7 linked regions of the Homo sapiens genome follow. The protein of the gene in region 7 interacts with the protein of the main gene of each other region in a pairwise test. Each region holds a gene or a part of one and is shown on either strand. Other genes may lie near its edges.

Region 1 (4,866 bases), on a different chromosome or scaffold from region 7:
GTGGGGTTGAAGGTGTCACTGGGTGGGTTCAAGAGAGAATGGAGGAGGGAGATTGGAGACAGAAAGTATGGAGAGCTCCTTCAAAGGGCATTGTTGTGAAAAGGGAGAAATGACCAGTAGCTGAAGGGGATGTGGGGTCAACGGTGTGCTTTCTTGAGAGCAATAACATCATGCTTGTGTGCCGATGGGATGATCCGGTAAACAGGGGAACTTGGTAAGGCAAGAGAGTGAGAGAATCACTGCAGGCTCACCACTGAATGGGCGAGAGGGGATGGGGTCTATGCCCAAGTGTCCAGTTGTTACCAGTGGGGAGTACGGGTGATTCATTTGTAGGAACAGGAGAGAACTCACAGGATTTGGGCACAGATGCCGAGGGCGGGCGTTAGAAGGAGACTGGGGACCTGAAGAAGTTCTCTGCTCCGTAAAGAGGAAGCAAACTGAGAGTGAGGTTGGGCGATGGGGTGTCCTAGGGGCATCCGGGAGACAGGGAGACAAGACATATAGTATGATTGCCCCCAGCAGTGAGGGCTCGCTTGAGTTAAGGGTCATGACTACAAAAGGCACCACTCAGGCCGGCTGTGTTACTCTCCAACACAGCACTGGTTGGGGGCAGGTGTGGAGGAGGCGGAGTTGGATTCGCCAGGGTTATGGCTTAGCCCTGTGAGAATGCTGTATCCCTCAAAATAAGAGAGGGGAAAGGGAGTTGAGATTTTGCGCAGCAGTGCGTTTAGGCTGAGTGAGCAGGTTGGTTAGTGAGGACTTGGGCGGTGGGAAGACGGACAGTGCCCTGACAGGGGCTAGGTGCTGGAGTGCTGGGGGATAGAAGTGCGAAGCCAGGGCCCCTGTGTCAAGAAGTTCATACGCTGGAAAGGAACCAGACATAATAAGCGAAACGACTGTCACCGTTCATGGCTTACACCTTGAACAGCTTTCCACTGTGGAGACTAGGGAGTGTAGAGATTGTTGGGGATGGGGGACTTGCAGGGGACAGAATGGGCCGCAGCTGGACCCTAGTTCTCCAGGGAACGCAGTATGATTTGAATACAGATCTCTGCCTCCAGAGATGAGTGACTCGACACCGCTGCGGAGAAGGCTCCGAGGAGGGTTGGTGGGGACTCGAACCTCGGAGTCTCTCCCGACCCGGGGGTCCCAGCAAACCAGAACGGCCACCTAGACAGCCTGCGGACGGGAGAGGACCGGCTCCCTGGCGCAGATCATGGGGCAGGTGGAGAGAGGCGAGAGGCAATGAGGCGGGGGGCTCGGGGTGCACGGCACGCTCCGCACACTCCCCCTTCAGCGCTCACTCAGACTTGGTTTCCCCGAAGACACACTCTCGTCCCCGCCGCTGATTGCCCACTCCTTCCGCCTGCACTCCTGCCTCCTTCTCACCCTTTCGTCGAGCGCACAGGGCGGCTGCCAAGTCGGCACCGGTGCGCACCGGGCCCGGGATCCCTGGCTGGTGTGGAGCCTTGGTCACCGGAGGCCCCCGCGGAGCAGGCCCCACGGCGCCTTGTGCGCTCTCGGAGGCCGAGCTGCGCGCCCGCGTCAGCGGCGCCTCGTTCCTGGCCGGGAGCTGGGACCCGCGGAGCTAGGGACCAGCACCCCCACAGGCGCCCGTCTGACCCCTGTCCCTCCCCGCCCGCCGCGGGCAGGGCGGATCTGGGTAGGGGCCGGAGGGGGAGGGTCCGCCCAGCGGGTGTCCGGTGTCCTCCCTGCAGCCTCTCCCAGGCATTGGTCACTTCTCCGCGGAGGAGCAGCGAAGGCGACAGCTCTCTTGGCGCGGCTGCCTGGGAGCCGGGCGCTTGCTGGGTGGGTGCTCGGGCCCGGTGCTCCCGCTCCCGCCCTGACTGCGCGCCTGTGTGCCGCCGGGGCTGCCCAGCCATGCTGTGCTGCCTGCTGGTGAGGGCCAGCAACCTCCCCAGTGCGAAGAAGGACCGGCGCAGCGACCCTGTCGCAAGCCTGACTTTCCGAGGTGAGAGCCCCGTGGCTGCCGCGCCCATGCTCGGGTGCTACCCGACTCTCGGCGCTCACTGGCGGGTCTGAAGCCCCTGCTCCGGAGCTAACCCTAGTCCAGGCCACAGTTTCTCCCTTTGTCAGCAGGGACGGAAATCCCAGCCCCGACTTCTGCAGGGGGGCGATGAGGAATAAGCAGAGCACAATAAATGCCACAGGGCTTTGAAAAATTGGAAAAGCGAAAGTGCCGTAGGTCAGCGGTTATCACTTTTCTAAGACTGACACCCAGAGGAAATAAAGTCCGAGCTTTTACTGGGTAGTGGGGATAAGGGTAAGTTGGAAGATGGGTGCAGAAGGTAGAGAGGAATCAGGGCCTCTGAAAAACGGGGCGTGTAGATGATGTGCTTTGAAAGTTGTGTCTTTTTTCATTCATTCATTCATTCATTCACCCATCTTTATCCAACATTGGCTGTATTGAATCTGCCCCGTCTTAATCAGTAGGAAAAGGAACAGAATAGGATGGAAATGGCCTTGACACAAGGAGTTTTGAGGAATGTCAAGGATATTTTCTCTAAATTCAAGAAGCTAAGTCCCTACATGTAGTGCTTAGAATACATACAGGTATTTCTGTGTGGGGCAGCAGAGAAATCACACACACACTCCTCTTCTCACCAGGCGTCCTGAACCCCCTCCCCCAACCCCTCCAAGGCAGATTCCCACTGGAGCGGGTGTCTCAGGAGGGGAAAGGGAAGAGGAAGGATCTGTCAAAATTAAGAGAAGGAACAATAGCTGTGAGTCAGGACCCCAGTTCTGCAGAGAAAGATAAATCAGGAGAGGAAAGAGGGTTTCCACTTAGCCAGGAGCCATACCCTGTAGCTTTGTGGAATCGATAATAATAATAATAAAAATCTACGTATCAGAAAAGATAGTCAAATGAAGAAGGAAGAGTAGCTGGTGTTTTCATAAGCCTCCTTCAGTGCAGGCACCAAGGGAACTCTTTTCAGTCTGACCCATGATCTGAATCATATCTCCAAGCACCCCCAAGATAATGATAGATGAAAGACATGATTTGGCAAAGGGAGATTTATGTGTAGCTTTTATTCTTTGCTGTGGGACAAGTTATATGTATTCCTCTTTTGAAAGATGTGATTTGAAACGTTTAAGAAAATTTCACTATTTTCATTGATTGGTGACATGCCTGGGAGTTCACTATGCAAGAGCAACTTCAAGACAAAGTCTTTCCTTCTCCAGTGTCCACCTGATGCTGCCTAAGGCTTTGCTATGCAGAAATTGCGGTGTCACCATTGGCTGGAAAAGAAATTCCCTAAGGACACTGGGCAGGGCACACATTAGCATAGGGCTCTGGATGCTCTAACACTCGTTTGGGTCTGCTCACAGCTCTTTCCCTTGTCCTGTAACAGTCCTGTGGTGGCTACCAATGTCTCCATTCTGCAAATAAGGAAATTGAAACCCAGGGAAGTTAAATGTGTTCAGGTCAGTGGTCATGGCAGGGAGCTACCAGCGCTTGGAGTGGGTATTGCCCTTGAGTCGGGAAGATGACCAAATCCCTTGAGGCCCCTCTTTACTATTGCCCTCGCCCAAGTACCCCGAACACGTGCAGCTGCTATCTCCCCCCAGATCTCTGTATTCCTTCTTTGTAATGCCTTACTATTTATTTGCACTGATGATCTCCTCGGAAAACAGAAATACCATACAATAGAATGTAACATCTCCAACCGTTTCAAGTCTATTTGTATTTCAAAGCCCAGGGCAATGCCACCTTCTCCAGGAGGACACCCTGGATCCCCCTGGCTCTCAAGAGTCTCTCCTCTCTGGATGACAAGCAGCAGCACCTTGCTAGGGATGCTAGCACCCTCGCCCTGACTGGCCTGTGCTCAGCTCCATGCTTAGGTGCCTTGAGAGCAGTGACCTGTCCTATTTGTTCATTGGTTTGTCCCAGTGCTGAGCACAAGTAGGTGCTCTCTAGTGTTTGTGCGCTTTCTGGCCCAGCCTCTAGCCATCCTCCAGGTGTGCCTGGGAGCTTCATTTAGTCTGGGACATGGTCCGCTCACTTGATTGTTCCTGAGAATCACTTGTAGAACGTGTTTGAGAAACAGATTCCAGAGTCCCCATCTGTAGAGGTTCCGATGCAGCAGGTCTGGAAGGTGACCTAAGAATCAGCACTTAACAAATACCCGATGCAGGTTATTTTGGAACCGCATCTTGGGAAAAATGGGTCTGAGATGTGATGGCAGGTGAAATTAATGCGCTCCCCATTGCGGGAGCATTCACTGGGGAGTTTGGGGCTGAGTTGATGCCTAAGGAGGGAAACCGTTAGAACCAGGTTCAGAACTTACAGAGCATGTAGGCTGGGGGGACTCAACTCTGGCTGCAGGTCAACATTGTGTGTGGGAGCTTCACCAAAGACCACTGCCAACCTCCCTGCCTGCCTTTTCTGAAGCCAGATCCCTTCCGGTGGGGCCCCAGGCATAGGTGTTGTTTCTGTCAAATTTCCAGGTGTTTTGAATGTGCAGTCAGGGTTGAGAACCACTGAGCCCAGCTCCTCATGGCACAGATGGGACAGTGGCCTGCTTGCAGAGAAGCCAGCCTGCACTGTGTGTTTGGCTCCTACAGGCAGCCTGAAATGTATGGGGCTGGGCTGGCCCCACTTTCCTTGCAGTTGTTCCCTGTCTCGGATGTAATTTCAGGACCTGCCTCCCAAAATAGACTATGAGCTCTGGGAGGCTGGACTCTGAGGGCAATTTTTTGGCTTCCCTGTCTAAGCACCTCTATTAATAGTAGAGGCTACTAATGAATACTTCTCATTCTTTTGTTTTTCTATTAATTAATTCATTAACTAAAACTACCATGAGTAACTGGGCCATAGTAGATATTTTTGACTGATTGTGTCAA
Region 2 (4,260 bases), on a different chromosome or scaffold from region 7:
CCAAAGTCACACAAACAACTAGGAAGGAGCAGAGACCCCAGGCTTCATTTTCCACCAATGCCAGATGAAACTCTGTGTTGGGACCTCATATCTGAGCACACTGTGTAGCCATGAAAGTAATTTTTAAACCACCATTAGCTTATTTTATCTCCATAACATCTCTGTGAAGGAAACTGGAAATATTATCTTTTTAAAACGGGGGATCAACTGAGGAAGAAACAAATGACCTGCCCAAGATTACCACTCAAGAAAGTGGCAGAGACTAGACCTCCTCTCCTTTGAATACACTTGACCTCAACCACTTCCCTATAATATCTTGACCTCCACACACTCACAACTTAAAGGAGCACATGCAGTTTTTATGTAGGTTGCACCATGTTTCTGTGAACTAGGCAGGGGACAGACATACCTTTGTTCTCTTTCTAATGGCTGGGTAAGAAAAAAGAGGTTATAGAAATCTTTAGGTTCCTTTTCAGCTCTAAAATTCTATGATTCTAAAAATTCTCCAGCAAGTTGATGGGTAAGAGATGCCTGGAATCCACATCACCTAACTTCCTCCCTTGTAGTCTATTAGGCCACCCTATCCCTGCCCTGCGAGTTAAGGACTACAAACATCACGTGTGCCTGGAAGAGGGGGGTCCACTCTGACATAGGTGCACACATAAAATGGCAAGAAGGTGCTACTGCCTGGTTAGGACCCCAATAGTGAGCTTCACTTTGCCCTCCTGCTTCAGCCCTGGTATCTCCCAGCAAGAGGCACCCAAACCACAGGAGTCATATATATCCCAGGTATCTAAGAACTTACGCAAGCCTGGGGCAAGAGAGAAGCCAGTCCCAGAGATAGAACACCACTCTGAGGTTGCAGTTTAAGTCCCTTCATTAAGATACCTGCCTTAACACCCATCTAAGGTAGGAGATCAATCAGACGTGTTCACTTATGCTTTTCTATAGACTTCACCAACTCTAGTTTTATCCAACAACTATTTACCAGGCACTGCTCTTGGTATCACAGAGTGAACAAATAAAAATCTCTGACAACATGGAGCAAGGGGAGACAACCAATATCAGAGGATGACATAAGCAATGGAACAAAATAAAACAGGAAAGGGAGGTACATAATGCCGAGAGCAGGTGATAGAGGGAAGGGGATAATTTTAAATGAAATGGCCTGGGAGGGTTTGATTCCTTAAATAGGAGACTGGGACAAGGAGAGAGAGGGACCCATTCAGATATCGGGGGGTTGAACAAGGTGATGGAGAGCATGAGATGGCTTAAGAAAGGTGAGCAGGTGAAAATCATATCATATCTTGTAGACCAACACAAGAAGTCTTGAATGAGATGCAGTGTCACAGGAGGCTTGAGCAAAGGAGTAATGAAATCTGACTTACAGTTTAGAGTATCACGCTGGCTAGTGGGATGGAAATAGTCTGTCGGGAGACAAGGGAGGAAGCAGGAAGGTGAGTTCACAGGCCAGTGGTAGCTCAGACCAGGGTGAAAGTGGTGGAGATGGTCAGAGTCAGGTTCGGGACATATTTAAGGCAAAACCAACAGGATTTATTGATTAAATGGATGTGAAGTGTGAGAGAAAGGGAGAAGTCAGGGACGACGAGAATTTTAGGGGCCTTGGCAAGCGGAAGGATGAAATCATCATGAACTGGGATGGGAAAGACTTTGGGAGGTACAGGGATGGGATGGGGGTTCATTCTGTTTTGGACACGTTAAACTAGGAAGCCTTTTAGACAGCAGGTGTGGTGAGCAGGCAGCAGAATATCCAAGGCTGAAGTTGCAGAGAATGGGCTGAAATTATAAATGTGGGAGGAGTCACCAGCATATATAATACTACATAATTCTATGTATGATCATGTGTAATTTGCATGACTATGTGTTTACTGTCTGCCCCCTACAAGACTGTAAGCTCCATGTGGCCAAGGACCACGTCTGTTCACAGCCAGCAGGGTGCTTGGCACTCAGTACATACTTACTGAGCAAATGGAGAAGTTGCCCAATTACTCCCTCAAGAATAGCCACACAGCCCACACAAGAAGCAGACTCTCTTGCAACCACAGTGCCAAGCCCAACCAGCCCCAAACAGGGCCCTGGGTCTGTCCACCCCGAGCTTGAGATTCCAGAACGTAAGTGGATATGCCTGGCACATCACAGAGTCAGATATTTGGGTTTCAGCCCTGCCACATTCTCAAAGGGTGGAGCTGGGCAAGAGACTTGCCTGTTCTACCACCTCTACCTCTCCCTGGAGTGGCTGGGGGAGAGGCTGCTTCACCCAGTTCATGGGCAGAGATATTTATCTACCTAGTGTACATGTATGGGGTGGCAAGAGCCCCCACCAAAGGAGTAAATCCCCAAGTATTCTCCGAAGCATACAAGAACCACCCAGCATCTGAAGGAGAAGAACACAGACCTACTGGGGATGCATTAAGAGTAACAATCCAAAAAAAATTTTTAAGGCTGGGTGTGGCGGCTCACGCCAGTAATCCCAGCACTTTCGGAAGCCAAGATAAGAAGATTACTTGAGGCCAGGAGTTTCAGACCAGCCTGGGCAACATAGCAAGACCCCATCTCTACAAAAAATAAAAAGTTAGCTGGGCGTGGTGGTGCACACCTCTAGCCCTAGCTACTGGGAAGACTGAGGGGAGAGGATCACTTGAGCTCAGGAGTTAAAGGCTGCAGGGAGCTATAACTGCACCACCATACTCCAGCCTGAGCGAGAGAACAAGACCCTCTCTCTCAAAAAAAAAAAAATATATATATACATATATACACACATATATATACGTATATATATACATATATACGTATATATACGTATATATGTATACACACATACGCACACACACACATATGAGTGACAATCACAAAACTTGATGAGACGAGAGGACCTCTCCCTTCTCCCTAATGCAAGAATCCCTGACCAGACAGTATTGTGTCTCTGCTTTGTCTACCAAGTGACTAAGAAGGCAGAACTAAGGACAAAGGGTGACATTACAAGCCATAAAGATTTCACCTCAATAACTTTCTCGCTTTAAACAGCTGCCTTTGTGAAGATGATAAAACAGCTCTAATGATCTTGTATAACCCTCCCCCTTTCTGAAATATTGAAAGTGTGACCCAGAAAGGTTAGATGACTTGCCCAGGGTCACTGAGTTATAGGCCCAGGACTAGAACTCAGGTCCTAGCTCCCTGTTGAGGCTTTCTTCCCATTACATTAGTGCCAAAGGAAGGTAAGAGTTACAGTGGCGCTGGGGGAGTTTTAGGCATTAGTCTTACAACGTAAAACTATGTCCTTGTCAAAGGAAAAGCCACAGATGTTACAGGAATGCCAGGTGCACTGTGGAGTTAAGAAGGATTCCTTCCCTTGTACCAAATTTGTCATCCTACAGAGTTCCCCTCGGCTTTGGACTTTATGAATAAAGCTATTCATAGTAGGACCCACAGAACTAAAGCAATGATAAACTAGCAGGTAAAAAAAAAAATGCAGATATATGAAAAATGCAGATGGTAGGATGAAGTTGAGTTTGCTTTCTAAAATCAACAAATACTGAGTGCTACTTCTGTACAACTCATTGTGTTAAGTGCTGAATGTGTGTGTGTGCGTGAGAGAGACATATACTACAAGGATAAGACAGAACCCAGGTCTTCAAGGCTTGCAATGTAGTTGCTGATAAAAGACTGTAAACATCAAAGACATGATTAATAATACAGAGTACATAATTGTTAAGTAAGTGGCATAGATAATGTGTCTGCAGGAGTTCTCAGAAGGAGCAATCACTTCCACGGGGTGTGTGTGGTGGGGTGCGGAGGGAGGGGGAAATGGCAGACTTGTCAGGCAAGGTGCTTCAAACAAGGCACGGCACTTGAAATGAACCCAAAGGATGAAAGACTCTCGATAAGAAGGAAATGGCACGAGCAAACACTGGTGGTCTTAATGTCAGAGAAGGGAAAGAAATCAGGACTTAAAAGAAAGGACTGGCCCACACTTGAACAGCCTTGAAAGTTAAAGTACTTGTAGGAGTGGGAAAATGCAGAAAGGTGTTTTGTTGTTGTTGTTGCTGTTGTTTTGTTTTTTTTTGAGACAGAGTCTCGCTCTGTCACCCAGGCTGGAGTGCAGTGGCGCAATCTCAGCTCACTACAACCTCTGCGAAACTTCCAGTTCAAGCAATCTCCCTGCCTCAGCCTCCTGAGTAGCTGGGATTACAGGCGCCTGCCACCACCATGCCTGGCTAAGTTTTGTATTTTTAGTAGAGA
Region 3 (4,260 bases), on a different chromosome or scaffold from region 7:
TATGAAGCACTGTGATAGTGCTATTGTAGAAATACAGTGTATGCAAAGCTGCAGGAGGAGGGATACATTCAACTCAGAGGTGGGATGGGTACAGGAAACACCTCACAGATAAGGGGACAAATTGTATTCAAGCCTTCAAGGATGCGCTGGACTGGAGAGAAGAGCATGTACAAGGGAATGGGTGGAGAGTGGGGAGTGAAGAAGGGGCTGTCTTCCTGGTTCAGTGTATCTAATGGCCAGAGAATTAGGTAGGACGAGGAGGGATTTGGGGCTGGATGGGTAAGTTGGGGCTAGCCGGATGCAGGGCAGGGGAGGATGTCTGTGCAGTTTTTTTTTTTTGTTTTGAGTCAGAGTCTCGCTCTGTCACCCAGGCTGGAGTGCAGTGGCGTGATCTCAGCTCACTGCAACCTCCGCCTCCTGGGTTCAAGCGATTCTCCTGCCTCAGCCTCCCGAGTAGCTAGGACTACAGGCGCGTGCCACCATGCCCGGCTAATTTTTGTATTTTTAGTAGAGGCTGGGTTTCACCATGTTGGCCAGGATGGTCTCGATCTCTTGACCTCATGATCTGCCCACCTCGGCCTCCCAAAGTGCTGGGATTACAGGCGTGAGGCACCGTGCCCGGCCACCTGTGCAGTTTTGACCTCAGCTAGTAGGAGTTTTTTTGGTGTGTTTGTTTTTATTTTTATTTTTATTTTTATTTATTTATTTTATTTTAGAGACAGTCTCTCCCTATGTTGGCCAGGCTAGTCTTGAACCCCTGGATTCAAGGGATCCTCCTGCCTCAGCCTCCCACAGTGCTAGGATTATAGGCATGAGGCACCAAACCCAGCCTCAGCTAGGAGATTTGAAGCAGGAGAATAACAAGGATGAGATCCTGTGTGCTAGAAGGATGATCCTGGCAGCACTTTTTAGGAAATATGCCACATCTCACCAAATCTAAGATGCTATTTGTCTTAATCCATTTTCTGTTGCTGTAACAGAATACCACAGACTGGGTAAATTGTAAACAACAGATGTTTATTCAGCTCACGGTTCTGGCCAATGGACTCTTGCAAGAAAGGCATTAATCCATTCATGAGAGTTACACCCTCATGACCCAGTCACGTCTTAAAGACCCCACCTCTTAATACCGTTACATTGGCAATTACGTTTCCAACACGTGAACTTTTGGGGGACATGTTCAAACCACAGCACCACCAAATCTTTTATGTGCCCTTATTTTATGCTCCACATCAAAAAAATATTTTGCCAGTTAAATTATGACATGCAATTGATCACATTTCAGAGATGCTAAAATGTGATGTCACAGGTGTCTCAAATTTGATGAAAAGCACTAACTCCCTTGCTGATGGCTTAGATTCCTCCCTTTCCCTGGATTAATGGTTAGGATGTCTCCATCTCACTAACTCATAGATGGTAAGTTACCAAGGGAAAGAAGAACAGAAGCTGGGTGGGCCCTTCCCCTTCTCTCCCCAAAGATAAACATTTACAACATTTACTGGTTGGGTCGAGGAGCACAATATCTGGTCTGCTGCTATAGGATTCCTTGGCCTGTTATTGGGCCTGTCTCATGCTGTTTCCTTTTGGGGAGTTAAATACACACACACACACACACACACACACACACACACACACACACACACATATTCTATATCCCATCCTCCAGAGTGGCAAAAATTAAAGCTGATATTATCAGGTGTTGGTGAGGCTGTGGGGCATCATGAGTGCTCATAGCCTGCTGAGCAGACTACATAGCACTATAGTCACTTTGGAAACAGTTTGGCCTGCTTAGTCAAATTGAGGGTACATCTTGCCTGTGTGTGCTAGAACATGTATGCAGAAATATTCACTGAAGCAGTGTTTGTAATTGTCCCAAACTGGAAACAACTCATATGGCTATCAGTAGACTGCATTAAAAATTGTATAGTTAGAGAGCAGCAATTAAGTAAAATCAGCTCATAATCACATGGATGAGCCTCACAAACATGTTGACAGCCCCCCACCCAAATACATGGAAAAAAAAAAAAAAAAAAGGAAAAAAATTCCATTCATTTGAGGCTCAAAACCTGAGAAAATAAACTCTGTTTATGGGGTGTATACCTAGGTCTAAAACTAAAGAAAAGGGAAGGAGTGATTCTCACTATTACAATTTACTCCACAACAACCATTTTCTCAGACACAGCTTTTTCTTCTCCTGGTTTCTGTAAGTTGCTGGAGCGAAACCTTGGATACGATGATTTGCTGGTGACGTGCAGCCCACTGTTCTTGCTGCTACAGGGAATATGAAGAAATTGCTTCTCTCTCTACCAATTTACTACCATCTTGCTGGAGAGAAAGGGCAGGTGGCTAAGATTGTTCGCATTCCTTCAGCAGATGTGTAGGAAGCATCTTCTTTGTGTCAGATACTCTGTGCTTGTGCTTTGTTTTCTCAGTCAGTTTTTATTGTCTACTCTGTGCCAAGTAATATGTAGATTCTGGTGATAAGACAGACACAATCTCTCTCCTTGTTTCATGGAAAAAGCTGGTGTTAAGCGAGTAATTACACTAATAAGTCAGGACTTAAAACTGCAGAGAAGTACAGGGTGCAGCATGGGGTGTTTTGGGGCTGTATAACTAGACTACATGTGGACCCAATCTGACAGGTCAGGAAAGAATTGCCAGAGGAGGTGGCTTTCAGCTGAGACTTCAAGCTAGAAAAGGCATTTGCTAAGTGGGAAAGGGATGGTGTTCTAGGCAGAAGGAATTACATTGTCGAAGGGCTTAGCCAGGAAAGAGCATAGCACTTTGAGGCATGGAGAGCGGTTTGGTTTGGCTGTGAGTTTGAGGTGGGGAGTGGCAGGAAATGAGCCTGGAGACACAGGCTGGGCCATGATTATCTGGGAATCCAGCTAGGATCTCCTGGGACAGCCTCCTCACAGAAGAAAGGAAGGACAGGAGTTTTGACTTTATTCCTGGAGCACCAGAAAGCCATTGAGGGGTTTAACCTGGTTGGTCACCCGGGCAGATTGGCAGTTTAACACGTGACCGAGTGTGTTTGAGGATCAAAAGGCCAGAGTGGCTGCAGCACTGGGGCAGCAAAGGGGAGAGGAGGTTTATGTAAATCAGGAAACCCTTGAGGGTTTGATGATCCCACAGTTGGATCTGATTTCAGCTTCTAAAGGATTCCTCAGGTCACTGGATGTAAGTTCTGGTAGGACAGGGAGTTTGCCACTTTTGTTCTCTGCTGTAACCTCGGTGCCTGACACATAGTCGGCACCTAATAAACATCTGCTAGCTGTTGAATAACTTTCAACATCCTGCTGCTTAAACCCTCAATGGCTTCCCAGGGCTGTTAGGATAAAGTCCAAAATTCTTAACCTGGGTCACAGTCTTGCATAATCTGTTCCCTCCTGTTTCTCCACCCTTCCTCTGCTCGCCTCACTGCACTCCACCTGTGGCCAATTGTCAGCTCCTCAAATTCACCGCTACCCTTTCTCCGGCGGATGATTTCCTCTGCCTGTGAGGCTAACCCTCCACAGCACTCCATATGGGCAGGGAAGAGTTCATTTTCCAGGCACCAAAGTGCAGTGTATGGTGGAATGGAAGGAGCCCAGAGCTGGGAGGTGCACCTCACCCCACCTCGTGCTAGTGCTGGCCTTGCTGCCAGCCAGCTCTGCTGCTGGGCAAATGAGTCCGAGGCTCTGGCACTCACTGTCCTCCTCTGTAAATAAGGGGTTCTAGTGATTCACAGTCCTGGATAGACTTTAGAATCTCCTGGGAAGTTTGTTTTTTAATACCAGAGCCTGGGCCACCTCTGGAGATCCTAAGTCAGTTGGTCTAGGTATGTTTTGAAGACTCACCAGTTTGAAGACTACAAATCTGATGTGTAGTCAAGGTTTGAACCATTCCACAAGATGATAAAGGATTCCTTCCTATATTTGGTGCAAAGCACCAAGTGACACTTAGGAATATTTTAGACAAGAGAGCTTGGTTCATGATTCAACATTAGACAGATATTCTGGCACAAATATGAAGAACCCTCAATTTTCCCCTGTGGGTCAGCCACAAGACCAGGGCAATTTAACGCCTTGTCTCATCCACCTCCCAGCTGGCTGCTACCTCCTGCCCCTCTTTGAGCCCTGTGGGGATTTCTAGCGTTCAGAGCCCTGGTAGTTTTTGTGGCCTGCACTGTGCTTCAGAGCACCACTGATGCTCGGCTCCGTGGGGAAAGTAAGCCAAGTGTGACCACAAGAACGCATCATCCACAGTCACTGGGATCTC
Region 4 (4,962 bases), on a different chromosome or scaffold from region 7:
CTCTTGTAGATTAGGAAGAAAGAGACAGGTGTCAGGGTTGGGTAACTCTAGGTAAGACTGGAAAAGGAAAATGCGGAGCCCCTTTCTGAAAAATTACGAATTTCAAAATGGCGACACCAGAATATTAAACCAAGCTCGAAGCCCTTCTAAGCTGGGAGCACTGTGCAACTACATAGGTTGGACGCATATGCAGCTGGTCCTGCCTCTTGCACTTACGATTGCACACACTATTGTCTGCCAAATTGGGATGTATTCCTTTGGACTGCTATCCAGACCTTTATTCATTTTTTGAGCACCTACAATGTGCCAGGAATTGTGCTAGTGGTGGGGATTCCAGATAAGAGCGAGCATTCAATTCAATCATATCGGGTTTCTACTATATAACAGGTCTTGTTCTAGGTCCTGGGGATACAGCTCTGAACACATTAACACGGGGCAGAGACAAGGAATAAATGGGTTAAAGATCAGATAGTGACAGGTGCCCAACAAAAACTTAGCACAGGACGATGTGACACAGGGTGACTATTTGAAATGGGTTGTGGTGGGGGGTGCCGGAGATGATATTTGAGCTATGAGTTTAGTGAAAATAGTGGGCAGCCCTAGCTCCATGGGGGTGTGGGTGGGGAGGGTTATCTTAAGCTTGGGAAACAAGGCAAAATAAGGAAAGGGGGGAGAGAGAGACTATATACGGCAGAGTGAACACAGGTGGTAGCTAAGGGAAGGGATGAAATCATGGGACACCTCCAGGCAACAGCCTCCAGGGGCTAAACCATCGTCTTGGGTAAATGGATGGTTTGAGAGCAAAGGCGGGAGCAGCGAGTCCGGTGAGAAGGTCCTCACAGGAACCCAGGCTGGTGAGAAGGTCCTCACAGGAACCCAGGCTAGCGAAGCGGTGGCTCGGACTAGGGTGAAAGTAGCGGAGGTAACGCTGGGTGAGCCGCACCCGCGTCTCCCACGAGGTCCCCCCAGTGAGGTTAGCGGGTGCCGCGCCGAGCGCCAAGCTGAGGAGCCGCCCCCAGGGGCTGGCGCTAGTCTGCAGCGGCGCCGACGTGGCCGGCGCGATCCGCCACGCACGTGTCCGGCTCCAGGCCGGGGGCGGGGGCGCGCGGGGGTCTCCGGCTCCTCCCCGACTTCTGGGGCCCGGGCGCCAGCTGGCCCCGAGCCTCCAGTCCGCGGGTGCGAAGAACGGAGCAGATGGGTCGGGAACAAGGGAGCTGGGTCAAGGCGAGGAGGGGGCGGCCGGGCGCGCGCGCTCTGGCCTCGTGCACGCGCTGAAACCGGAGCGCGCAGGGCGCGCCAGGGTGAGGGGGACGGGGGCGGGGTGGGGGCAGCCCTTTCCCAGGCGGTAGCGGGGGCGGCGTCGCTGTTGCCCTTTTAAGCCGCGGGGCCGCCGCCTCCTGCCGCTGGAGTCGGTTACAAAGGAAGCGCCACCCAGGCCGCCACACGCCGAGGCTTCCGCGCCCCTCGCCATTTTCCAGCAGCGCTCGACGAGGCGGAGCCGCGAGAGCGCGGCCCAGGCCGGCCCCGCGGGGCGGTCGCGGCCGTGACGGCGGCTCCGGGCCCGGCTCCCCTTCCGCGCCCGGCTCCCCTTCCGCGCCCCTCCCGCCGGAGATGAGGGGAAGATGTCCGTGTCAGGGCTCAAGGCCGAGCTGAAGTTCCTGGCGTCCATCTTCGACAAGAACCACGAGCGATTCCGCATCGTCAGTTGGAAGCTGGACGAGCTGCACTGCCAGTTCCTGGTGCCGCAGCAGGGCAGCCCGCACTCGCTGCCGCCGCCACTCACGCTCCACTGCAACATCACGGTGAGGCGCCCGGCCGCGGCCCCGCGGGGCAGGGCGAGGACGGAGAGGGGGCGCTTCGAGTCCCGGGACAAAGGGGAGCCTGCCCCGGAGAGGCTCCGGCTCCCCGGGCGGGGCAGGCCCGCCCCTTTCCCCCGCGACTTGCCCATCCCAGGCCGGGCTGGGACTGCGCGAGGCTTGGGTGGGAGGAGGCGGAGGGCGCGTCTTTCCGGCTTCTCGCCAGGGGCTGGCTTGGGGGCTTCTGGCCCATCTCGGTCCCCGTCTCCTAGCCCCGAGGGGGGAGTCCGCGGCGGCCCAAGCCCTTGTGGGGTCCATGGCCGCCCTCAGCCGGCCTGCTCCCGGGACCGGGGCGGGGCGGGGCGGGGCGGCGCAGCTCCGGCTGTTGTTTGAGCCCAGGCCGGCAAGGGGAACGGCCCTTAAGTTTTAACGCCTCATTTTTCAGTCGGATTTTCCTTCTTCCCGCTTGTTCAGCCAATTGTTTTTAAGTTTGCGTTTAAGGAGAAACTGACAATGAGAATGGACTCGTTGACGGAGGAAAAGTTGGAATGCAGACTCTGGTGCTGTTTGAGCGACCCCTCTCCCCCGGGCCTGGCTGCGCGCTGCTGTGTTCTGGAAAGGAGCATAGTACCGTCGTTGCGGCAGGTGGTGTTGAGTGTGTATTCGTGTGGCCCCTCCCTTGTGTGTAAGCCTCGAAAATGGATAGGTGAAAGGAGATACGCGCCAGGGCTGCTCCCCGGAAAGATCACGTATGTCACAAAGCCGAAAAGACACTTTTAAAAACTCACTCATTAAGCGGAAATCTCATTAGAAACCCAAGGCTTGGTAAAGGAATTGAAGTATTAAGTTTCTCCATAAAAGTGTATCGTGAAGCTATTCGTCGTGAAATTGATGTAGGATATTGGTCCAAACTGCAGAATATTCTCTTGGTTATAATAGGCGTCAAGGTGGTGGCTTCGGGCTCCTTTTCAAACATGGCTAAAACCAAGTCTTGTTTTTAACTCCCTTTGGTTGAGTCAGTGGGTACTCAAGTGCCTGCAGGGTGGCTGGCGTTTGCAAAAACCTTGATGTTATAATTGACCTTAAAATGGTTACCAGACTATCTGGGCAGAAGGTGTGTTAATTTCAAAAAAAAAAAGACAAGTGCTGTACTGAGGAGATAATTCATTTATTGAATGAATACGTCTGAGTGTTCTGGGCACTAGTGTTGCAGAATTGAGTGAAGTCGTCCTCGCTCTCAGAACTCAGTCTTCTTGGGGGAAGAGTTCAATAAGGTGACAGCTCCTGTGGTATCATCAGGAAAGCCAAAGCAACTAATTTTGACTTGGGGGAGGTGCGCTTCAGGGAAGGCTTTGATGAGAGGCTGAGACAGTTAGAGATGAGCTTCCACAGGTGACTACAATTTTGGAAGGCTGGCGGAAGGGCATTTTAGACTGAGGAAACTCCACCCAAAGAAGACACGGAGATTTGAGAAAGTGTGGTTTCCTTAGAAGTAGAAAATTTATGCTAAGACTTGAGAAGCCCACGATACAGGCTGGAGAAGGGGAGGATTTTCCAAGAGTGGAAAACAGAAAGTGTAGTAGTTGTCATGAAGCAGGTGTTTTAAGGAGACGGGCCTGAATGGCTTCGAGGGTGATTACTCTGGTAGAAGTTGGGGCATGGCCACGAAAAGGTAGGGCTGGTTTGAATGATAGGAGACTGAATTTGTAGGCTGTGGGGAGCTACTAAGTTTACTCAGGTAAGTTGGGAGAATGTATCTTTCATCCAGGATTAGAAATGGTTCTCTACAGTGGGTGGCATTAGGAAATGTGGTTATCCCAGTGGGGGTGGGGTGGTCTTATTGCTGTGCCGGCATTTAGTGCTAGGAGTACAGGGATACCAAATGTTTTGCAACGTTCAGGCAGTCTGCCACAGCAAAGAATTATCCCACCTAAAGTGCCACTGGTGCCCCATCGAGAACCATATTGAAGGCTGGTAAGAGTCTGCTGCAGATAAAAATAAGGAGTGATGACCTGGATTAGGCAGTGGCAACAGAAATGGAGCAAGAAGTGAATGAGACACTTTCAGTACAAGGAGGATTTAGTGAGGACTAGTGTAATGGCACCCACCGCTAGGTAGAAACTATTAAAATTGACTTGCTAGTGAAATATGACAGACTATCAGGAGATAATTATCATGGCAGCTGCTCAGTACAAATGTCTGCTAACTTTTTATTATGGAAAATCATCAAATGTACAAAAGTTGAACAGTGTAATGTAGCCAGCCTCAACAATGATAAACTTTTGGCTAATCTTCATCTGTACTCCACTTTAGATTATTTTGAAGCAGATTCCAGACAGATCACTTCATCTGTAAATATTTCTGCTTGTATCTTTTGAAGGTAAAAGACTCTTTTATTTTTTATTATTATTTTTTGAGACGGAGTCTCGCTGTGTCGTCCCAGCTGGAGTGCAGTGGTGTGACCTGGGCCCACTGCAACCTCCGCCTCCCAGGTTCAAGCAATTCTGCTGCCACCGCCTCCCGAGTAGCTGGGATTACAGGTTTCCGCCGCCACACCCGGCTAATTTTTGTGTTTTTAGTAGAGACGGGGTTTCACCATGTTGGCCAGGCTGGTCTTGAACTCCACCTCAAGCTCCCAAAGTGCTGGGATTACAGGAGTGAGCCACCGTTCCTGGCCGTAAAGACTCTTTTAAACATGGATGACTGTTTTGATAAAATGACATGGCTTGTTCATGTCGATACCATTTGCTTAGAAGGGAAAGATCAAGGGAAAAATGGGGTTGGATTTCAAATGATTTGGTTTGATCGATGATTTGTTATTCTCTAAAGTTGTAACTCTGGAAAAGGTAATGAGTTTGACTTATTCTTTAACTTTTCCTCTTTAGACAGTTCAAATATTTGAATTCTACATGCTAGGACTTGTTTTCTTTATACTTACCAAGAAACATCCTTATGCAGTTTCTCTAATGTTTGAGAAACTAAGTTGTTTTTTACACACGTGCATGCTAGTTCCTGAAGAGTCCTGTACAGGTGCTCTGCTGGCTTTTCCTTTCAGGTTTCTGTATCAGCTGTATTTCTCCCTGTAGAATGTGCCCCTGACCTCCACCCCTTAACCTTACCCCATTTGTCTTTATATGCCTGACCATCCGTCAAGGCTCTTCTGGGT
Region 5 (4,260 bases), on a different chromosome or scaffold from region 7:
TGGGACTACAGGTGTGCGCCATCATGCCCAGCTAATATTTGTATTTTTAGTAGAGACAGGGTTTCACCATGTTGACCAGGCTGGTCTCGAACTCCTGACCTCAGGTGATCCGCCCGCCTGAGCCTCCCAAAGTGCTGGGATTACAGGTGTGAGCCACCATGCCCGGCCTCTCACACTTTATTTCTTACCAAATTACTAGCAGACCTGTAATGGCAGTGTTTCGACAGAGCAGTATGCACTCTCACACTCTATACTTCAGCAAGGGGGAGAGTCACCATGAGGTGAATGCTTATGAGGCACAGGTCCTCTCGTTGTCAGCCTGAGGGTCGGGGCACCTGGCCCAAGCCAGTGCCAGGGACAGGAGTGTCGGACCCTAGTCCTGTCAAATACTCCAAGCCAAAACAGGCTAATTCCCATATCCAGAAGCAAAGAGCAGAGTCTAGAAAGGCAGTTTCTCCTCTAAGTGCCTAGAGTGCACACCAGCAACAGCTGTGAACCCTGCATACCTGGACCCCTCCCCTAAGGACCCCACACCAGAGACTCTCTCCAGCCCCAACCTGAGTCAACCTGGACCCCGCCCCCCTCAAGGGCCCCACACCGGAGATTCTCTCCAGCCCCAGCCTGAGTCAAGCATGGCTCTGTGATGTCCCCGGCATGCGTCCATTGGGAAAAGACCAGAGAGTGTCCACAGGCCCCTGGGCACCCCACTCACCCCGGGGGAGGGTGCAGGAGCACCTTGCCAATGCCATGACTGGGGCACCAGGCTCGCCCAGCAGGGGCCGGCAGAGGCCTGCGTGGCAGCGACAGTCAGCGCAGGGCGATCAGTGGCGCGGAGCCTTACCACTCGAGAATATTCGAAGGGAGGGGCTCGGCACAGATGTAAGGCACCGGGTCTTTCTTAATGCGAAGGTAGTCCTGCTTCAGCCTCTGGGTTGCCGTGGTCGGAGCCCTCTTACTGCTGGTGCTGCTCATCTGTTAAAAGCAACGTCTACACTGACGACGAGAAGCAGCGCCGGCCACAGCTCTCTCCCCTGGCGCAGCCCCACTCCCGCCTCTGCAGCCCGCCATTCATTCAGGGCCCGGTCACCCAGAGTCACAGCTCACAGGTCACCCTCGCTTGCCACCCGCCCAGACACCCAGAGGCCCTGCGGCTTCTCTCTTCCCGTCTGTCCCGCCACCACCTTCATTGACACGACGTACAGCTCAGGTACAAAGACGAGGAGAAACCCAAAGCCTCGTTCCTGTCCTCCAAAAACTCACGCAGGGATACATTTACAGGGCTTGAGGGGGTATTCGGGCCACAGCCTCAGACCAGCTCCTGAGGGCAGCTACTCGCACCTTCCAACTCAGCTCAAGGACCCCGCACTGATGGAGAATCCACACCATAGAAGTGGGCAGGCACCACCGCCGGCCCCTTCACCGCACCCGGAAGCCCGCTGCCCAGCATTTACCACTAGCCACAAGCAAAACGAGCCGCAGAACGGGGGAGCCTCTGCGGCTGGAGGGACGAGGACTCTGGAGACTCCAAGGCACTCACTGGGCAGAGCAGCTGTCTTCCTGGTAGAAGGGGCCACAGGTGAACAGGCCACACCTGAGAAAGTGCAGTGTGCAAGGGCCCAAGCACAGTGAGGGCAGGGATAAGACTGGCCAGGGAGGCAGGGCCAGGGCATAAGAGTTTATTTACTTATTTTTCGTGAGACAGGGTCTTGCTCTGTCGCCCAGGCTGGAGTCACTGTGGCCTTGACCACCTCGGCTCAAGCAATCCTCCCACCTCAGCCTCCTGAGTAGCTGAGACTACAGACGCATGCCACCACGCCTAGCTAATTTTTTTTTTTTTGTAGAGCTGGGATCTCACTATGTTGCCCAAGGTGGTCTCAAACTCCTGGCCTCAACTGATTCTCAGGCCTCAGCCTCCGGAAGTGCTGGAATCACAGGCAGGAGCCACGGTAACCCGGGCCCCACAGGGGTTTGGGGTCCAAGCCTCAAGGCAGATCATATCTTCTGTTAGGAAAGTCACTCTGGTGGCTCCATTGGGACGTTCAAGACAGCACTGAAGGCCGAGCATGGGGCGCGAGGCACCATGCAAGAGAGGAGGCTGGATCAGGGACCCCAAGGCCCCTCAGCCACACCCGAGACTGGGGAGAGGGGTGGTGATCATCATGCAAGAGAGGAGGCTGGATCAGGGACCCCAAGGCCCCTCAGCCACACCCGAGACTGGGGAGAGGGGTGGTGATCATCATGCAAGAGAGGAGGCTGGATCAGGGACCCCAAAGCCCCTCAGCCACACCCGAGACTGGGGAGAGGGGTGGTGATCATCATGCAAGAGAGGAGGCTGGATCAGGGACCCCAAGGCCCCTCAGCCACACCTGAGACTGGGGAGAGGGGTGGTGATGAAAACAGGGCTCCCTGCTGCATCAGACTAGCTCCAACTCAAACCTTATTTTTTTTTTTTTTTTGAGATAGAATCTCACTGTTCGTTGCCCAGGTTGGAGTGCAGTGGTGTGATCTCCGCTCACTGCAACCTCTGCCTCCTGGGTTCAAGTGATTCTCCTGCCTCAGCCACTCAAGTAGCTGGGATTACAGGTGCCTGCCACCATGCCAAGCAAATTTTTTTTGTATTTTTAGTAGAGACGGGGTTTCACCATGTTGGTCAGGCTGGTCTCGAACTCCTGACCTCAGGTAATCTGCCCACCTCGGCCTCCCAAAGTGCTGGGATTACAGGCGTGAGTCCCCGCGCCCAGCCATGGCCACACGATTTAATAACGTCTGTGGACATCAGTGGCCATCGATAACGGACAGTGACCAGTGATCTCCATCCTGACCTCCCAGTTCCCACAAACCGGAAGTCTACTCTACCCAGTTTCCTTGCTGATATGCTTTGGCTATGTCCCCACCCAAATCTTATATTGACTTGTAATCCCCATAATCCCCCATGTTGAGGGAGGGACCTTGTGGGAGGTGACTGGATCATGGGAGCAGTTTCCCCAAGCCGTTCCAGTGAAAGCGAGTTCTCAGGAGATCTGATGGTTTATAAGGCAGTGTTCCCTGCTCTTGCCCGCTCTCTCTAGCCTGCTGCCATGTGAGACATGCCTCTTCCCCTTCCGCCATGATTGTAAGTTTCCTGAGGCCTCCCTGGCCACACGGAACTGTGAGTCCATTAAACCCCTTTTCTTTATAAATTACTGAGTCTCGGGTACATCTTTATAGCAGCATGAGAACCAACTCATACACCTGTAGACAGCCACACATTCCACCTCCTTTCAGTCTCCACCTGCAAGAGATCTACAGACTTGGCCTCTCTAACCGGTTTATTCCTCCTCAGAGAACCACCACCAGCAGCCTGTTTAGTGTCTGCTCCCAACCTGAGGATGTCAATGGCCAGGGCTTGGCTGCTCACCCCACACACCCAGGGCCTGGAGTGCAGAGCTCAGCCAGGGCACCCAACGCGTGCTCCCAAATGTGTGGCCTCAGCACCACCCCCAACCCTGCTTCTTGTTCTGGGGTCCCTGACTCTTGCAATCCTTGTTCACCACAGCCTTCCCACTCTCATTATCTTCTCTAACGCAAAATGTCATCACTTCTCCCATCAACACCACAGGAGCCTCCCAACTCCCCCCGTGGGTCCAGAAGGTCTGAGCTTCTAGTCTCTTCCCATTTCAAGGCCCTCCTGTACCCATAAGTCAACATACTGTTCCGATCACCCACTCCCCCATCCACCCTTCAGGATACTCCACAGCCAAGCAAATAAACATCAACACGTCCTCTTGCCTGCCAGCCCCTTGACAGAGGCAGCCCCAGCCAGCCCTCCTCATTCCCAGCTCCCAAGACAGAGCAGCCCCAGCCAGCCCTCCTCGTTCCCAACTCCCAAGACCCAGCACGGCCCAGGTCCCACTCCAAAGTCCTGACCGACACACTCCTTCTCACAGCTGCTTCCCAGCCTAGCCTGTACTGGAAACTCCCCAGGCCCTTCCCGGCATAGCCAGAGCCACCGCCTTCAGAGGCCTCCCTGATTTCCCTGCCAAATGCCTCCCACTCTGTCACACATCACTGGCCTCCATGTGACCCCACACACAACGCAGGGCCCTTCTGGGCCCCAGCGGGTTCCTCTGCCTAAGGAGTGCCTCCCCAGGAGGGCCCCCACCAGGGATGGGGTTACAGTCCTGCCTGGGAAGGAAGTGCTTCCACACAGTGGCATCCCCAGCTCCTGGCTAAAGAAGCCAATGGGCCAGGGATCTCCCCTCAGGCCAACACCTGGTGATG
Region 6 (4,260 bases), on a different chromosome or scaffold from region 7:
GTGGCTGAGGATAGATGGTCAAGCCCTGGAGTTGTTGCTGGATCTCTAAACATTTGCAAGGTAAATGAAGTGTGGTGTTAGGATCACTGGCAATGGGTCAGACAACCTTGGTTTGTCTCCCTCCTCGTTGCATCTTCGTGGTGCCTCTGACTAACCTGTGAAATGTGCTTGTCAGTACATGCAGGTGGCTGTGGCCCACATCCATACACCTCACTCTGTACCCCGTGAACTCCTGACTCAGCCCTCTCTTAGCCCACTGTCCACCGTGGCTCAGCACCTATGCCATCTGGCACAAAAGGAAGGGGTGGAGGGATGTCAGAGTGGAAACAGATAGCAGCCTTGGTCGGTGCTGTTAAAAATCTCTCTTCTGCAGGATTTCCTGAGCAGAAGGGGCCTGTGTGTGCATGGGCTTCATTTGCTTCACAACACATCTGCCTTTGCCATGGTTAACAATTTGAAGACATGGTACAGGGCATCGATCCCTTCTTCTCACCTGGGCTTGCCTTTGTGTTGTTCCTTTCAGGAGAGTGGGCAAATGACCTGCGGCACGGCCATGGCGTATACTACTACATCAATAATGACACCTACACTGGAGAGTGGTTTGCTCATCAAAGGTTCGGTTTCTATCTTGGGTCTTAACGGGATTTGCTTATGTAATGAGAACATGATGTCTGCAGATTGTTTACACTTACTGAGGAACAGAATCATAACAAAAGCCCAGTTACCAACTCTGCCAGGCAGGTCCAATCTTTCTATGGCTTTGAGGCAAGGATGCCTTTCTGTGCAAGTGTAGACTCAAGTATCTGACATCTGCACCTCAGTTGGGGCAGAGCACGTGAGTCTTTCACCCAAGAGTCCCAGGGAGTGGAGGGCACAGAAGAGCCACTGGGGGACCTGAGCCACAGCTCCCACTAGCTCTGCCTCTTCCCTGGGGAAAGCAGCTGACACACAGGAGGCTTGCCTCTGTCCAGCTGGCCTGTCCTCTGTGCCTCTGGCAATGTCCTGTGCTTGGGGCACACTGAGCAAGGGGCACCTTCTGACTGGACACAGATATAGAAGCTACATCGCTTGTGAGCCTGCAACAGCCTGGGCCTCCCTCAATGTCAATGTCTGTGTTTTAAACCTGGGAGATTTTTCACTGTGCTGGAACGAAATACCATGTTCCCCTTGTCTTAACCAGGCATGGGCAAGGCACCTATTTATACGCGGAGACGGGCAGTAAGTATGTTGGCACCTGGGTGAACGGACAGCAGGAGGGCACGGCCGAGCTCATTCACCTGAACCACAGGTACCAGGGCAAGTTCTTGAACAAAAATGTAAGTCCATGGGAAGTGACATTTGCCAATGAAGTACAAAATAACCCCCTCTGGCAGCCTGTGCAAATGTGTGACCAGAGAATACCAAAAACTCAGAGAAAACTGAGTCCGGCCTATTCAAATGTGGAGAACAGGACAGCTGTGCCATTCTCTGAGCCTCTGGTACCCACAGAGCACAGAATTGGGGGAAGGGAGGGATTGGCCCGTTTCTCTGGATCTCAGTACAAATTCCCACTGTCTTTCAGCGGGGACCTGTTGCATTGTTATATAACACGAGAGGGCATCTGAACCTCTTGTGTGTATTCCTTCTCATGGGTAAATCAGATACCAAATATCTATTTCCTGCAATTGAGCATAGAGGTGTTTGGGTTTTGTTTCCCTGGAAGGGGAGGTGCGACATCCCTGGGGAGGAAGACCCCCAGCTCCCTCCTCATGCTACAGGCCAGCCTGCGTGCTCCTAGTTGTGGTGGGAATTAAGGCTGCCAAGGGCCTGGCCCTGCGTCTGGAGGCTTGCCAGCTTCTAGCACCCATGGTGGGCCGTTTCTGTTTGGAAGACTCGGTGGTTCCTCTTGCCCTTATTGTACAGAGAAACCTTGAATAATTCAGAAGCTAATACTCAGGCCATCGTGGTAGCTTTGATCAGGGGTTGAGCAGAAACTTTCCCTGAAGAGAGAATTTGCGGAGCAAATTGATGGTGTTAGAAGTTGACAGAGGGAATGTTTAGCTGATACAACGAAGTCTCTTCAGACTCTCTTAGAACCCAGTTTTCATTTACGTATAATTCATGCCCTAACCACAGATTTTACTTTTAGTCTTCATCAAAACAGCACATTCCCCTCAAACCCATACATTGTTTATATAATTCCCAGCAAACTTTCTGTGGGTCTTTTTGGAGGAGATGGGAAGGTGGTTGCAGAGGAAGAGAATTTGATGAAAATGAATCTGGAAGAATCAATCAGCTTGTCCAGCCTAAACCAGTCTGAAAAATCGGGGTAAAAATGGAGGCTTTGTTTTGCTAGTTAGTAAAAAACTTTAAATTATACAAATAATACACAAGTACATTCCAATTGTAAAGCATTTAAACACTAGGATCCTGCCCCACCACCCTGGGCCCAATCCTTCCACACTATTTCTGTGTGTCATGTAAGCACATTCTAATACAGTCATCTGACACAGAATTATTGTTTGGGGGTTTTAATTACATAATTAGGATCATACTGTGTCAGGATACAAAAATATACATAAAGATACATATTTGTCATTTTGCACATTTGGGACTATTGTGTAGGTTAGATAATGGAATTGTGAAACCTTTGAGGATTGGCATTTAGAATCACAATCGGTAGTGCCCATTTTCCTAAAAAGTGGTGTCAGTTTATACTCTTGCCAATAGAATATGAGTCTGTTTATCATATATTCTCATCGATGTTGGATATTCTCAGTCTTTAATGTTGTTTTTGTTCTTTTCCAATCTTATGGGTAAAAAATGTCATCTCATTGTTTTAATGTGTACTTCCCTGATTACTAGTGAGGTCAAACATCTTGTCACATGTTTATTGCTGGTTTGTGTTTCTTCCTCAGAAAATTCCCTGTACATGTCCTTGTGGACAAGTTATCAATACCACAAAACTTCAATAATTAAAACAGTGTGATACCAGGATACACACACACACACACACCAATGAAGCAAATTAGGAAGTCCAGAGACAGTTCCCAGTATATAAAATAATTTCACACACAATAAGCGTGTCAAATTAACAAAGGGATGATGGGAGGAGTCAAGACATAGTGCTAGGAACACTTGACAATTATTTGGGAGGAAAATAATAGTTTTGCCTTCACACAGATGAAGATACTTTCTAGAAGAAGTAAAGATTTAAATGTACCCTAGGAAATATAGAAAAAAAATGTAGATGAATATTAACCTTGAAATGAGGAAAGAGAACTTTCTAAACAGAAATAGAAAGGAAAAACCAATAGGTTTAGCTTTATAAAAATAACTTCTTATAGATTAGAAAATGCTGTAAAGAAAATCTAAGAGATGACTGTTAAATGGGGAGAGAATATTTGCAACATTTAATATATAAAGTGTTTTATCAATCAATGTGATTTAAATGGCTAAAAATCTTGAAAAAAATGCAGGCTTACTAACAACTGAAATGAAGTGAATTAAAATTGTGAGACCCTGTTGTTTTATATAAAAAAACATGTAAAAATAGACCATTTTTACACTCCTAAAATCAAGAGTTTGAGGATCTGGGACTCTTAAGTGCAGTTATGGGAATGAAACGATTAGAGCCTCATCTAATCAAAGCACATGTATGCTTTTGTCCAGAAATTCTGAGAATTTAAGGATGGTATCAAAAGCGTACATAAAGTTTTAACTCAGAGTACGTTTGCTGGAGCGTTCTTTGTAAAAAAAAAAAAAAAATCAGTATCCCAAATACCAACAATAGTAACTGAGTAAAATAGGTTGCAATCCATAGATGAAATAAAGTACCAGGTGGCAACTGTTATTAGGAAAGAATATTTGTAAATACGGGAAGTAGTTCATGCCATATTTCTCAGTAAAAATAGAGTATGAGTTAGTATGTATAATTATGATCAGATTTTTATTTAACCATGTATACTAGAAGCAAAGTTACAAAGAATGCATCAAAATATTAGTAGTAGTTCCATCGGTAGCTAGTTTGCCTATGGATACTGATTCACTGAGGTTTTCTGAAAATGAATACATCACTTTTATAAAAAAGTAAAATGTGGTTAAAGTTTCCAAAAGTAAACAAAACAGGGCATATAAGTTCCAATCCCATCAGCCACGAGTTCACAAAAGCATTCCTTAATCCATGTTACACTTTACCCAATTTGGTGATTTGAGGTGGGTATTGTGGTGGTGACATTTGTATTTTGTATTTTCTGCTGGGTGTTGACACTTAAGAATGGT
Region 7 (4,260 bases):
CTTGAAGCAGAAGAAAACAGTTCATGGATTTAGACTTCTGCCTGCTGAGTCTTTGGGTTCTTTCCAGAGCTGGAGCTCAGAACTGAGGCTGAGGTCCTAGTGCAGTGCCTCATGAACCAGGGCTGCTAATGGCCTGCATTTGATTTCTAAGTGAATAGATGACAATTTCTGCTGAGGGTTTATTGGTAGATCCTGACAGTCTAGCTTTTTCCTGTCTTTCCTATTTCTAGCTGCCAATTTGTGGTGTCTGAAGACCAAGACTACACAGCTCATTTTGCTGATCCTGATACATTAGTTAACTGGGACTTTGTGGAACAAGTGGTGAGTAGCTCAGCCAAGCCCATAAGCTATGAATGGGAGCACTAAATAAAGGCACTGTGGTGACGCAGCAGCTGTTGGCTGTGTGCACTGCTTGATACCCTTTTCTGCCTGGCCTTTCTATAGATGTTTCCCAGAGGTCAGTTCCTGGTTCTTCCTGGAGTCCATTTTGTGACTAATTGGCTCTGGCCTGTAGGGATGGTGTATGAAAGGCTCTGATCTGAAGATGTGTAAGCTGGGAAGTAGTAACCCCTTACCCTCCTGATCTGGGTTGGGCTCATTACAGGGCCATTGCTTCATTGGCAGCCATTCGTAGCAATCACTATCAAAGTAGGCCTCAGCCTTGTGGCAGGGAGGCACATGAATGAGCCACACAGTTGTACTTTTCTTTTTTGAGAAAGAGTCTCACTCTGTTGCCCAGGCTGGAGTACAGTGGTGTGATCTTGGCTCACTGCAACCTCTGCCTCCAGGGTTCAAGCAATTCTCATGCCTCAGCCTCCTGAGTAGCTGGGATTACAGGCACCCGCCACCACGCCTGGCTAATTTTTGTATTTTTAGTAGAGACGGGGTTTCACCTTGTTGGCCAGGCTGTTTTTGAACTCCTGACTGCAAGTGATCCACCCACCTTGGCCTCCCAAAGTGTTGGGGTTACAGGCGTGAGCCACTCTATCTGGCCCAGTTGTACTTTTTTTTTTTTTTGAGACGGAGTTTCGCTCTTGTTGCCCAGGCTGGAGTACAGTGGTGCAATCTTGGCTCACTGCAACCTCTGCCTGCCAGGTTCAAGCGATTCTCCTGCCTCAGCCTCCCGAGTAACTGGGACTACAGGCACGCACCACCACTCCCAGCTAATTTTTTTTTGTATTTTTTTTTAGTAGAGATGGGGTTTCTCCATGTTGGTCAGGCTGGTCTTGAATTCCTGACCTCAGGTGATCCTCCCGACTTGGCCTCCCAAAGTGGTGGGATTACAGGCATGAGCCATCGTACCTGGCCTCTTTTTTTTTTTGAGACAGTCTTGCTCTGTCGCCCCAGCTGGAGTGCAGTGGCGCGATGTTGGCTCACTGTAACCTCCACCTCTTGGGTTCAAGCAATTCTCATGCCTCAGCCTCCTGAGTAGCTGGGATTACAGGCGTGCACCACTATGCCTGGCTAATTTTTGTATTTTCATTAGAGACGGGGTTCCACCGTGTTGTCCAGGCTTGTCTCAAACTCCCAGCTTCAAGTGATCAACCTGTCTCGGCCTCCCAAAGTGTTGGGATTACAGGCGTGAGCCACCACGCCCAGCTTCAGTTGCACTTTCAAAGCCACTGATGTGTTTTCTACTGAAGTTATAAACTCTAGGTATCCCCTTGTTGGTCCTAGTAGGGTATCTGTTGAAGAATAATAATTTCAAAATGATGGGCACTTTTTCTTTATGAGCAGGGGCTTTTGACCTTAAAGCTTGAACTCTCGCCGGGCGCGGTGGCTCACGCCTATAATCCCAGCACTTTGGGAGGCTGAGGCGGGCGGATCACGGGGTCAGGAGATCGAGACCATCCTGGCTAACACGGTGAAACCCCGTCTCTACTAAAAAAAAAAATTAGCCCGGCGCAGTGGCGGGTACCTGTAGTCACAGCTACTTGGGAGGCTGAGGCAGGAGAATGGCGTGAACCCGGGAGATGGAGCTTGCAGTGAGCCGAGATGGCGCCACTGCACTCCAGCCTGGGTGACAGAGTGAGACTCCGTCTCAAAAAAAAAAAAAAAAAAAAAAAAAAAGCTTGAACTCTCACTACTGTGAAAATGTATAAAATCATCTGAGAATGACATAGCATAAAAACTTAAGTTTTATTAAAAAAAAATGAAGTCTTTTTAATGCGTTCTTTGTTGGAAGTTACTGGTAGATTACTTCTAGACCCTTTTTAGGCCTTTATGCATACATATTAAGTTTTTTTATAAATGGGAATATAGTGATTTGTCACTTTTTTCTATTTAATGTAGAACCCCCAACATACCTGTTGTGTATTAGTTTTATTATATTTAACGGTTATTATGGTTTCCTTGATGCTTTGCTTAAAGAGCTATCATACAAAGCCAGGCGCGGTGGCTCACGCCGGTAATTCCAGGACTTTGGGAGGCCGAGGCGGGCGGATCACAAGGTCAGGAGATCAAGACCATCCTGGCTAACACAGTGAAACCCCGTCTCTACTAAAAAATTAGCTGAGCGTGGTGGCAGGCGCCTGTAGTCCCAGCTACTCCAGAGGCTGAGGCAGGAGAATGGCGTGAACCAAGGAGATGGACCGTCTCAAAAAAAAAAAAAAAAGAAAAAAATGATCATACATGTACCTACGTTGTAAACAATTTTAGAAAGATATGTTGAGTATAAGGATGTACGGGGATAGAGATGAGAGAGATGCGGATGAGAGAGTAGAGAGGCCTAAAACTTTGACAGTCCCTAATCAGTTCTTCAAGCAGTGAACCTTCTGGTGGCATTTTGTTTCAGCGCATTTGTAGCCATGAAGTGCCATCTTGCCCAATATGCCTCTATCCACCTACTGCAGCCAAGATAACCCGTTGTGGACACATCTTCTGCTGGGCATGCATCCTGCACTATCTTTCACTGAGTGAGAAGACGTGGAGTAAATGTCCCATCTGTTACAGTTCTGTGCATAAGAAGGATCTCAAGAGGTGAGATTGAGACATTTACTCAGTTAGATCCCAATCTCTTCACTCCTTGCCCTGCTACATATGAGTGTCCATGTTTCAGTGTTGTTGCCACAGAGTCACATCAGTATGTTGTTGGTGATACCATTACGATGCAGCTGATGAAGAGGGAGAAAGGGGTGTTGGTGGCTTTGCCCAAATCCAAATGGATGAATGTAGACCATCCCATTCATCTAGGAGGTGAGTTCTTTAAATTTTGGGGACAAATAATCCTGGGTACATTCTTTAAGGTGATTGAATATATCTAAGCATCAGAAAGTGAAGCCTTTGGGCAGGGCACATCTGGCATGTTCATATTAGTCATAGGATTCCAGTAGGTTAGGGTGGGGTTTGTAGAGAGTAGATTAATTATTGGTTTCAAGTTTGTTTAATCTATACATCCTAATTTTTCATTTTACAAGGTTTTATTACATAGTGTCTTTCACTGTGCCCAATCTTAGAGGTTCTGTGGTCAGCCAGTCTTGGTGCCTGTCGTCAAGAAACTCAGTAGTCCGATAGAAGAGACAGACTGGTAGACTGGCCATTAGGATAAAGAGTGTGATAAGTGCTCACAATGAATGCCAGAGATGTATTCCCTGTGTTTCATGCAGAAATGAGCATTTGATTAAAATAGCATTTCAGTCTCTGGGGAAAAGATAGATTTCTCAATAAATGGTATTGAAACAATTGATTCTCCCTAAGGAAAAAATAAAATTAGATTCCTATTTCATACCATTCATGAAATTAATTCCAGATAGATTGAAGAAGTAAATGTAAAAAATCCAAAAGTTTTAACCTTTTTATTTAAAAGAAAATATAGGACAATTTCTTTATAAATCCTCAGATGTGCATCTGTCTGAAGGATTGTGTGTTCTCATTTGGGTGGTAAATGTGTGTGTGTAATATTTTTTTCCTAGTGATTTTGACTGTTTAAATGTTTAGCAACTTAAAACATTAAAAATGTGTATTAATTAAAAAAAAATCCTCAGATATGGGTGGATTTTTGAACCAGGCTGAAATGATAGATGCTGTAAAAGACTGATAAATTTTATTTTTATTTTATTTATAGATATATAATATAATATGTATATATATATTTTTTTTTGAGACAGAGTCTGGCTCTGTCACCCAGGCTGGAGTGCAGTGGCATGATCTTGGCTCACTGCAACCTCTGCCTCCCGGGTTTGAGCGATTCTCGTGCCTCAGCCTCCCGAGTAGCTGGGACTACAGGCGCCCGCCACCATGCCTGGCTGATTTTTTTTGTAT

What was found.
Region 1: the proteins of RNF10 (region 7) and DYSF interact in a two-hybrid assay, tested with the Homo sapiens proteins (one large-scale study listed by BioGRID and IntAct).
Region 2: the proteins of RNF10 (region 7) and UBTD1 interact in a two-hybrid assay, tested with the Homo sapiens proteins (one study listed by BioGRID).
Region 3: the proteins of RNF10 (region 7) and TRIM26 interact in a two-hybrid assay, tested with the Homo sapiens proteins (one large-scale study listed by BioGRID and IntAct).
Region 4: the proteins of RNF10 (region 7) and UBE2Q2 interact in a two-hybrid assay, tested with the Homo sapiens proteins (one large-scale study listed by IntAct).
Region 5: the proteins of RNF10 (region 7) and UBE2J2 interact in a two-hybrid assay, tested with the Homo sapiens proteins (one large-scale study listed by BioGRID).
Region 6: the proteins of RNF10 (region 7) and RSPH1 interact in a two-hybrid assay, tested with the Homo sapiens proteins (one large-scale study listed by BioGRID and IntAct).

What each region holds. Positions count from the first base shown.
Region 1 is NC_000002.12:71,464,962-71,469,827, forward strand, and holds the start of DYSF (dysferlin), read left to right. Parts: upstream 1-1,737; 5' UTR 1,738-1,881; coding exon 1,882-1,972; intron 1,973-4,866. UniProt on the Homo sapiens protein: Key calcium ion sensor involved in the Ca(2+)-triggered synaptic vesicle-plasma membrane fusion.
Region 2 is NC_000010.11:97,501,417-97,505,676, reverse strand, and holds part of UBTD1 (ubiquitin domain-containing protein 1), read right to left. Parts: intron 1-4,260. UniProt on the Homo sapiens protein: May be involved in the regulation of cellular senescence through a positive feedback loop with TP53. Is a TP53 downstream target gene that increases the stability of TP53 protein by promoting the ubiquitination and degradation of MDM2.
Region 3 is NC_000006.12:30,206,289-30,210,548, reverse strand, and holds part of TRIM26 (tripartite motif-containing protein 26), read left to right. Parts: intron 1-4,260.
Region 4 is NC_000015.10:75,842,045-75,847,006, forward strand, and holds the start of UBE2Q2 (ubiquitin-conjugating enzyme E2 Q2), read left to right. Parts: upstream 1-1,402; 5' UTR 1,403-1,622; coding exon 1,623-1,802; intron 1,803-1,999; exon of another isoform or gene 2,000-2,309; coding exon of another isoform or gene 2,310-2,441; intron 2,442-4,962.
Region 5 is NC_000001.11:1,267,021-1,271,280, forward strand, and holds part of UBE2J2 (ubiquitin-conjugating enzyme E2 J2), read right to left. Parts: intron 973-4,260; coding exon 842-972; exon of another isoform or gene 750-841; coding exon of another isoform or gene 713-749; intron 1-712. UniProt on the Homo sapiens protein: Catalyzes the covalent attachment of ubiquitin to other proteins. Seems to function in the selective degradation of misfolded membrane proteins from the endoplasmic reticulum (ERAD).
Region 6 is NC_000021.9:42,482,725-42,486,984, reverse strand, and holds part of RSPH1 (radial spoke head 1 homolog), read left to right. Parts: intron 1-523; coding exon 524-614; intron 615-1,180; coding exon 1,181-1,316; intron 1,317-4,260.
Region 7 is NC_000012.12:120,554,488-120,558,747, forward strand, and holds part of RNF10 (E3 ubiquitin-protein ligase RNF10), read left to right. Parts: intron 1-230; coding exon 231-321; intron 322-2,794; coding exon 2,795-2,979; intron 2,980-3,058; coding exon 3,059-3,195; intron 3,196-4,260. UniProt on the Homo sapiens protein: E3 ubiquitin-protein ligase that catalyzes monoubiquitination of 40S ribosomal proteins RPS2/us5 and RPS3/us3 in response to ribosome stalling.